Linked DNA regions of Homo sapiens. Changing the gene in region 2 together with the main gene of any one other region gives a genetic interaction. Each region holds a gene or a part of one and is shown on either strand. Other genes may lie near its edges.

The links. Genes that interact genetically often act in the same process or in processes that back each other up.
Region 1: changes in PRPF31 (region 2) and KRAS are lethal when combined (synthetic lethality), as found in Homo sapiens cells (3 studies listed by BioGRID, with this or other methods).

What each region holds. Positions count from the first base shown.
Region 1 is NC_000012.12:25,240,930-25,244,429, forward strand, and holds part of KRAS (GTPase KRas), read right to left. Parts: intron 1-3,500. UniProt on the Homo sapiens protein: Ras proteins bind GDP/GTP and possess intrinsic GTPase activity. Plays an important role in the regulation of cell proliferation.
Region 2 is NC_000019.10:54,128,984-54,134,296, reverse strand, and holds the end of PRPF31 (U4/U6 small nuclear ribonucleoprotein Prp31), read right to left. Parts: intron 5,241-5,313; coding exon 5,112-5,240; intron 5,026-5,111; coding exon 4,927-5,025; intron 2,991-4,926; coding exon 2,865-2,990; 3' UTR 2,584-2,864; downstream 1-2,583. UniProt on the Homo sapiens protein: Involved in pre-mRNA splicing as component of the spliceosome. Required for the assembly of the U4/U5/U6 tri-snRNP complex, one of the building blocks of the spliceosome.

The sequences.
Region 1 (3,500 bases), on a different chromosome or scaffold from region 2:
AAATGTGCACTTTCACAATTTGCCACTTCTGAATAGGACCCTCCTATCATCCCCTGTAACACACCACCAAGCCTTGGACTCCATTAAGCAGCTCCTGAGTGCATGCAAAGAAGCTCAGAGAGCCACACTGCTGCCTTTTAGTCCCTTCAACAAAGTAAGCTCAGTAAGTGTTAACAACTGAACCACCCTATTTTCTTATATACTGCCTCGTTTCCTTTCTTAGTTCACTATACTCACCTACTTAGTTAGGCCTAACTAATACAGACAGTAATCTTTATATTAATATTAGCAGAGAGCAAAAATGATACGAAATCAATCATATAAGACTTTTAAATAAAACGAATATATTTATAAATTGATGCCACCCATAATTTAAACAGCGAAACTACACAAACTTAGGATTTCACTGTTACTTGTTATAAAGCAAATAATTTGACCAGTAGAGGGCACTCACAAAAGTGGGGAGAGCTTCACAGCCTTGAAGAGAAATGATTTATAAAATTGCTGTGTGTCTCTGATTTTAAAAACAGAATGTTTTAATAGAAGACTGGAGTAAGCTAACATATCATTAACGTACAAAAGTTAAAGTTTAAATCTTTGTTATACTTGAAAATCTAACATAAACCTTATGTCAGGGACATGAATTTGACAATTTAAAGGATGTTTAAAGCTACAGGTTAACATATCAAGGTTTGGATCTTAACACCATTGAGGTTTGGGGTCAGATAACCCTGTTGTGGGGGCTTTCCCGTGCACTGCAGGAAGTTTAATATTAGGTTGGTGCAAAGGTAACTGCAGCTTTGCCATTTAAAGTAATAGCATCTACTCAATAGATGCCAGTAGCAGTACTCTCTCCCCAAGTTGTGGCAACCAAAAACATCTCCAGATGTTGCCAAATGTCCCCTGGAGGGCAGTCACCCAACCATCCCTCATTGATTACTAAAGATATATGTATAAACTCAGAAGAATAGCAGCTTACAAATTACATAAGGCTTTTCTTATACCAGTCTTCAGTATCAGTTTAATTTTACAAATTTTCTCTCTATAATCTACATACTTCATTCGTAGGTAAAATGAATTCTACAATGAACATGGAAAAATAAAAATAAAATAAAAATTAAAATAAACCTTGGTAAATAAATACTCTACAGCTCAGAACACTAAAGATGAAACAAACCAATCCAATGATTAATCTGGTCTTCCTTACTGAATAGGAAACTGTTCCATCAAAGAGGGGCATAATACTTGAACTGAATTATAAGTGCCACAATAAAAGCATGCTGATGTCAAACAATTAGAGCCTGGGAAAAAATACTTCCTGCTATATTTATTCTTACTAGCATATTATATACAGTAGATACTTAATATATATTTGGTAAGTGATCAACTAATCATTCTGATCTCTGTAACTACCTACATTTTTTTAAAACGAGACTTTTCCTCTTCCACCAAATTTTACCTTAGAAAAAAAACTTCAGGGTTTTGATAATAAATGATCTCTGAACTATAAAGGTATATATTTCTAGCCAAGTATTGTGTTTGGGGGCTATTTTGAGTTTTCAATAATCTTGCCCTAATAACGAGGTATTTCATTATCTCTTTAGTGGGCTTCATAAAAGATAACAATATATACTTCACAATACAAGTAAAGGTGATTATGTGCACAGCCTCGAATACAAACATACTCCATCTATGTGTCATACCTGAATGATTTTACATCATACCTCTGCCACTAAGTTGCCATTAGATAGCAGGCTAAGTTCAAATTTTGGTATACTTACAAATCTGAATTAGTCTCCATTAGTAAATATTTTCTTAATTTGAAAGATAGCTAATTTTCAGTTTTAAAAAGTTATACAAGAGTACAGTGCAAATTCTACTTAACTTGGTCTCAGAGAATTTAAATTGAAATCCTACCACTTATTAGCTACGTATCCTTAGATGAGTTACAACCTCTCAGAGACATTATTGAAAGAAACAATAGCCACCCTCCTTACTATCTCTTAGTGTAAATTTTGAAAAATCTAAATCACCAAAAAATACAGTATTACTTGATTTAAATTTTTAAAAAATTTATTTCCATTTTAAATGTAGAAAAACTGCTAATAATTCCAAAATGTGCAGTCATATCCTTTCTAATTTTCTCTCTGACCCACACGGATTGGTAAATACCAATCAAAACCTGCAATGGCAGTGAAATCCCCATATCCTCCTAAATTTTTAACTTTTTACAATAACATGGAGTCAGCATTTCCATTTAACCAACTATTTAACTACTAAGTTCTCCTGCCTTTCTTACAGTTTAACTACACCAAGAACTTAATGTAATGTGTCAGTTCCCTCAGAGACTCACTGTAACTTGGGAGATAAGAGATAATCTCAGATACCTTTTCCCAGGTGACTAAACTACGTCAGGGACCGTCAGTTTCAAAGTTCACAGGTAACCAATGCTTCCCAGAGTCAAGTCTTCTGGTTTGGCAGAAATCATAAGCAGAGTTATAGGTTTAAGTTTATAAACTTTTTCAGCCTTCCGCCCAAATAAAGGCTTAACTGTTAGCTTTATTTCTTCAACATTTATATTGCATTTTAACAATCATTAGCAAAAGGTTTCCTAACCCACTTTATCACATTCATGACGTCATGCTGTATATACTCATATAGCACTCATGACCTCTGATTGGAAACAAAGTGTAATGGAATTTCTCAGATTTTCAGGGAAGACAGACAGCATTTCCAGTAAAATCACCTTCCAAAATCCCAGGAAAACTTTCAGGCATAAAGTGAATTATATTAAAACTTCCTTTTACATCTGATTTAAATAGTAGAGTCTGCCAAGTAACCCTGAATTTGCAATACAGATTAAAATGGGTGCACTATTCAAACCTCTTCAAAGAAACAAAACTATAGTACACATTGAATTAACTTGTCAAAAGTAAATATACAGAGACTATTGCATAGGCAGTCTACTTCAATTAGACTGTTCCCCTTTACTGCTGTAAATTCTTAAAATTGGAAGCCAAATAAAGTTGTTTCTATGTTTAAATCAAATCTTTGCAAATAGGCATTATTTCTCCACTTTTTTATAGTACCAAAAATATGTGACGTTTCCTTATGATTAGTTATCTAATCAATTCTCCAGGTTCTAAACTGCATAAATATCTTCCCAAGGCCACCCAATGCCCTCAGAACTTGCCTCAGCGCAAAGTGTCTCTTCAAGACACTACACAGTACAGTACGTTAATAAGGCACTTTGACCTGTTCTAGATTTCACAGCTTGGAACTTGAAGAAAGTTCTTAGAAATTTTTCAGAACTGATTTTTTTAAATTAGTACACTAGATGTAGAATAAATGCTAAAGTATTAGGACTGCTTAACCCAGGGTAAAGAAGCCTAAGAAACAATCTAACAATATAGGGCTATTTCAAAGACAAGGCGATATGCTTATTTTCCATCTCCACTGATGTTAAATTTAACATGAAGATCCAAATTACATGTAAAATA
Region 2 (5,313 bases):
AGAGAGGGAGGGAGGGAGGGAGAGAGGGGAGGTGGAGAGAGGGAGGGAGAGGGGAGGAGAGAGGGAAGGTGGAGAGGGAGGGAGAGGGAAGGTGGAGGGAGGGAGAGGGAAGGTGGAGGGAGGGAGAGGGAAGGTGGAGAGAGGGAGGGAGGGAGGGAGAGAGGGAGGGGAGGTGGAGAGAGGGAGGGGAGGTGGAGGGAGGGAGAGGGGAGGAGAGAGAGGGAGGGAGAGGGGAGGTGGAGAGAGGGAGGGAGGGGGAGAGGGGAGGTGGAGAGAGGGAAGGTGGAGAGAGGGAGGGAGGGGGAGAGGGGAGGAGAGAGGGAAGGTGGAGAGAGGGAGGGAGGGAGAGAGGGGAAGGTGGAGAGAGGGAGGGGAGGTGGAGAGAGGGAAGGTGGAGTGAGGGGAGGTGGAGAGAGGGGAGGTGGAGAGGGAGGGAGAGAGAGAGGGGAGGTGGAGAGAGGGAGGGAGAGAGAGAGGGGAGGTGGAGAGGGAGGAAGAGAGAGAGGGGAGGTGGAGAGAGGGAGGGAGAGAGAGGGGAGGTGGAGAGAAGGAGGGAGAGAGAGAGGAGGTAGAGACCTGGAGGCATCATCTTCCCACCAGGCTGCTGCTTGTCCTGGTAACATCTCTTAGGTAACTAACAGAAGCCCGACCTTGTAGGTCAGGTGACTAGCGCTGCCTCCTTAGTACCACCGTGTAGCCCAGCTCCGGAGCACATAGTAAATGGAACCCCTGGAGTTGCTCTTCCTTAACCTCTCCAGGGAGACGGTTTCATGCCACCCGCTAGGACAGCCCCTGCTGTCCCCTGGAAACTCTCCTGACTGTCTGCAGGCCACATTCCCCTCAGTCCAAGTAAAGGCGCTCCTGGCCGAGCCCCGGTTCCCGAGACTCAGTGACTGGAGGTCAGGGGAGGGGAAGTGTGCTCCTTCTGCTCACCTGGCAGGACTTTTATAGCAACCAGGTCCTACCAGGGCAGGAAGCCTGCCTGCTTCGCCTGTGCCCGGCTCCACACAGTCCCTCAACACTGGTTATAAATAAGAGGCTGGGCCAGGCACAGGGTAATCCCAGCACTTTGGGAGACGAGGCAGGCGGATTAGTTGAGGTCAGGAGTTCGAGACCAGCCTGGCCAACATGGTAAAACCCCATCTCGGCCGGGCGCGGTGGGTCACACCCGTAATCCCAGCACTTTGGGAGGCCGAGGCGGGCAGATCACAAGGTCAGCAATTCAAGACCAGCCTGGCCCAAATGGTGAAACCCCGTCTCTGCTAAAAATACAAAATTAGCCAGGCGTGGTGGCGGGCGCCTGTAATCCCAGCTATTCGGGAGGCTGAGGCAGGAGAATCACTTCAACCTGGGAGGCGGAGTTTGCAGTGAGCCAAGACCATGTCATTGCACTCCAGCCTGGGTGACAGAGCAAGACTCCGTCTGAAAAACAAACAAACAAACAAACAAACAAACAAACAAAACCCATGGGCGCCTGTAATCCCAGCTACTCAGGAGACTGAGGCAGGAGAATCACCTGGACCCGGGAGGTGGAGGTTGCCATGAGCCAGGATCATCCCACTGCACTCCAGCCTGGGCAACAGAGTGAGATTCTGTCTCAAAAAAAAAAATAATAATAATAATAAGAGGCCAGACACAGCGGCTCAAGCCTGTAATCTCAACACTTAGGGAGGCTGAGGTGGAAAGCTCACTTGAGCACAGGAGTTCAAGCCCAGCCTGGGTAATAGAGCACGACCCTGTCTATAAACAATTTAAAAATGGGGCTGGGGTGGTGGCTCACACCTGTAATCCTGGCACTTTGGGAGGCTGAGGTGGGCATATCATGAGGTCAGGAGTTCGAGAACAGCCTGACCAACATGGCGAAACCCTGTCTCTACTAAAAACTATAAAAATTAGCGGGACATGGTGGCACATGCCTGTAATCCCAGCTACTCAGGAGGCTGAGGCAGGAGAATTGCTTGAACCCGGGAGGTAGAGGTTGCAGTGAGCCAAGATTGCACCACTGTACTCTAGCCTGGGCAACAGAGCGAGACTCCACCTCAGAAAAAAAAAAAAAATTTAAATTAACCAGGAGGCCAGCTGTGCTGGTTCATGCCTGTAATCCCAGCCCAGGAGTTTGAGGCTTTAGTGAGCTTCATCGCATCACTGTACTCCAACCTGGGCAACAGAGACCCCGTCTCTAAAAAACCCAATCATAACAGGACCTGGTTATAGGGCGCTGATGGCAAGTCCCATGCTAAGTGCTTTCTGTGCATTCTTTCCAGTCCTGGGCACCTGGGCGTAGGTGTGGAGGCTTGGAAAGGTGAGGAGGCTGGCCTGAGGTGGACAGCAATCCCGGTCGGCCTGCGCTGAGATCTGCGGCTGTTGGCAGCCACATCATTTGCTATCAAAGTGACTGCGGCTCTCCAGGGGGTTGGAGAGGGCTTTTTCCTTCTGGGATCCCATGACGAGAAAGTAACGGGGAAGGGAGTGGGCCTAGACACCGCTTGGACCCGAGGGCCAAGCTCTTTTCTCAAAGCTCCACAGCTCTGATTCTTCTAGTTGCCCCGGCTGTTTGAAAAATGATCACTCCCCAAGGACAGATCTTGACAATGTCCTTTTAATTGTACTCTTTTCAAAAAATCTCCTTTCTCAGTTAAAAAAGACAAGGCATGATGAAGACCTGCTCTAGCCCATACTGGGCGGTGATCTCGGTCCTGGGGGAGGCCAGGCCGGACTCTTCCAAGGCCTCCTCCCTGGGCAGTCCCAGCAATGGGGCCAGTGGCAGGGCAGGTTCTCCCTGCCAGAACCCGATCCTAGCCCTTCAGAAGGACTGGACCTCTGTGTCCCTTCAGTGGGAAGCCACCTTGGACACACGCAGTCATTCAGGTGGACATAAGGCCACTCTTCTCGCCCTTGACCTTGAGGAACTCAGCCATGCTGGAGAAATACTTCTGGTTGGCCTCAGCCACCTTCTTCTCTGCCGCCTGTGGGTTCACAATCTCCAGGCCCTGGGCAGGTGAGGGAGAGAGGATGATGGGTTAGGTGAGGAGAAGGCCCCAACTGTGACCCATCAGAGCCCCCCAGGCCCTTCCCCATGGCACTCAGGCCTTGGTGGGCATGAGACAGTTTGCCTGTCCCTGGAGTTGCCCTGTCTTGGGAGATTCTGACTCAGTGGGTCTAGAGGGAGAGGGTGGGGAGGAACCAGGGCGCCTGGATTTGTACGAAGTTCCTCAGGGGTGCTAAAAACAACCAATGCTTGAGGACAGCCAATCCTGCCCAGTTTCTGCATAAGGAAACTGAGTCCCTGGGGGACATGGCTGGCCCGAGGTCCTAGCACAAATCACACCAACACCACTGACGATCATAGTGGCAGCAATGGGAGCCAACACCTGGCTGGCACTTCCTAAATATTTTCAAGGCAACAGAGCGAGCCCCCGTCTCTAAAAATAATAACAGGACCCAGTCATTGGGCTCTAATGGTGAGCCCAGTGCCAAGTGCTTCCTGTGCGTTCTTTTCAGTCCTGAGCACCTCATGATGGAGGAGGGGAGGCTTGGAAAGGCACAGCCACTGGCCTCATCTTCTCAAAGAGGCCCTCCCTGGCTGCTCCGAAACGAGAGCCTCCCCTGTCCCACCTCCTACCTTCCACCTCCTCCCCTCCCTGGCATTTCTGCCTTCTTTTTTTTTTTTTTGAGACAGAGTCTGGCTCTGTCGCCCAGGCTGAAGTGCAGTGGCGCGATCTCGGCTCACTGCAAGCTCCGCCTCCCGGGTTCACGCCATTCTCCTGCCTCAGCCTCCCAAGTAGCTGGGACTACAGGCGCCCGCCACCACGCCCGGCTAAGTTTTTGTATTTTTAGTAGAGACGGGGTTTCACCGTGTTAGCCAGGATGGTCTCGATCTCCTGACCTCATGATCCACCTGCCTCGGCCTCCCAAAGTGCTGGGATTACAGGCGTGAGCCACCGCGCCCGGCCTGGCATTTCTGCCTTCTACTACACTGGGCATCTTACTGAGCTGTCTGCGCCCGGCCTGGCATTTCTGCCTTCTCCTACACTGGACATCTTACTGAGCTGTCTGCGCCCAGCCTGGCATTTCTGCCTTCTCCTACACTGGACATCTTACTGAGCTGTCTGCGCCCGGCCTGGCATTTCTGCCTTCTCCTACACTGGACATCTTACTGAGCTGTCTGCGCCCGGCCTGGCATTTCTGCCTTCTCCTACACTGGACATCTTACTGAGCTGTCTGCGCCCGGCCTGGCATTTCTGCCTTCTCCTACACTGGACATCTTACTGAGCTGTCTGCGCCCGGCCACCCACTGGCTCCAAGAAGGTAAGACTTGTCTCTCATTCGTTGCTTCATCCCCAGAGCCGGGAACACTGACAGAACTCAGCAGGTGCTGCGTAGACACCCGCTGACTGGGCAGATGAGCTCGCTGCTGTCTCGCCTCCGTGGTGCAGGCTCGCCCTGCTCTGTGGATGGTAAACCGAGGCTCCGACGATGCGGTGACTGCCATGCTCCACGCTGCTCACTGCTGACTGGCTGGGGCCTGGACCCACACTTGACATCCAAGCCCGCCTAGCCGGGAACTTTCTCGAGTGGGGTCCTGAGGTTACCTTAACCGTCCTGGCCGTTTTGAACTGGAGGGCCTGGAGGCTGAGCAGTGTTACCCGCTCACAGCCCGACAGAGGAACTGGGTGCCCTGAACACAGCTGTGGGCCTGGTTCTAAAGCAGTGCGTGCTCACGAGGACTGCTCAGCGCTGGGCTCTCGTCTCTGCTAACCTCTTCCTGTGTGCCAGGAGCTGTCTACGTCCTCTGCATACCTCGTCACCACACCCTCCACAACAGCCCCATGAGGAGACTCATCCTGGCCTTCTTCACAGGGGCAGAGGGCAAGGGGCCTTGCCAAGGTCTCAGGGCTGGGGACAGAGCCGGCCCAGGGGAGGTACCTGGAGTGGGGTGAAGGCCACGCTGGAGGCCGTGCCCGAGGAGCGGTCGCGGATGGTGGACTTCCCGCCATATACGACGCTCTGCTTCTGCAGGGTCCGCTGTGGGGAGGACAGGGAGGCTGCGATCTGGGCTCCCCCCACCTTGTGTCCCTCGGTCCCCAGCCCCACCTGGGTCTGGCCCATACCTGCAGCGTCTTGGAGATCCTGGCCTTGGTGGCCTCGTTTACCTGTGTCTGCCGCACACGCCCACTGCCCGACTTGCCCAGGTGGCCCAGGCTGAATCCCAGGTCCTCCTGGTAGGCGTCCTCCTCGATCTAGGGGGGAGAGGAGGCGCCCTGCAGTTCAGCGACCAGGCCCTGCCCTCCAGCCACCGAGGCACCCCCTCCA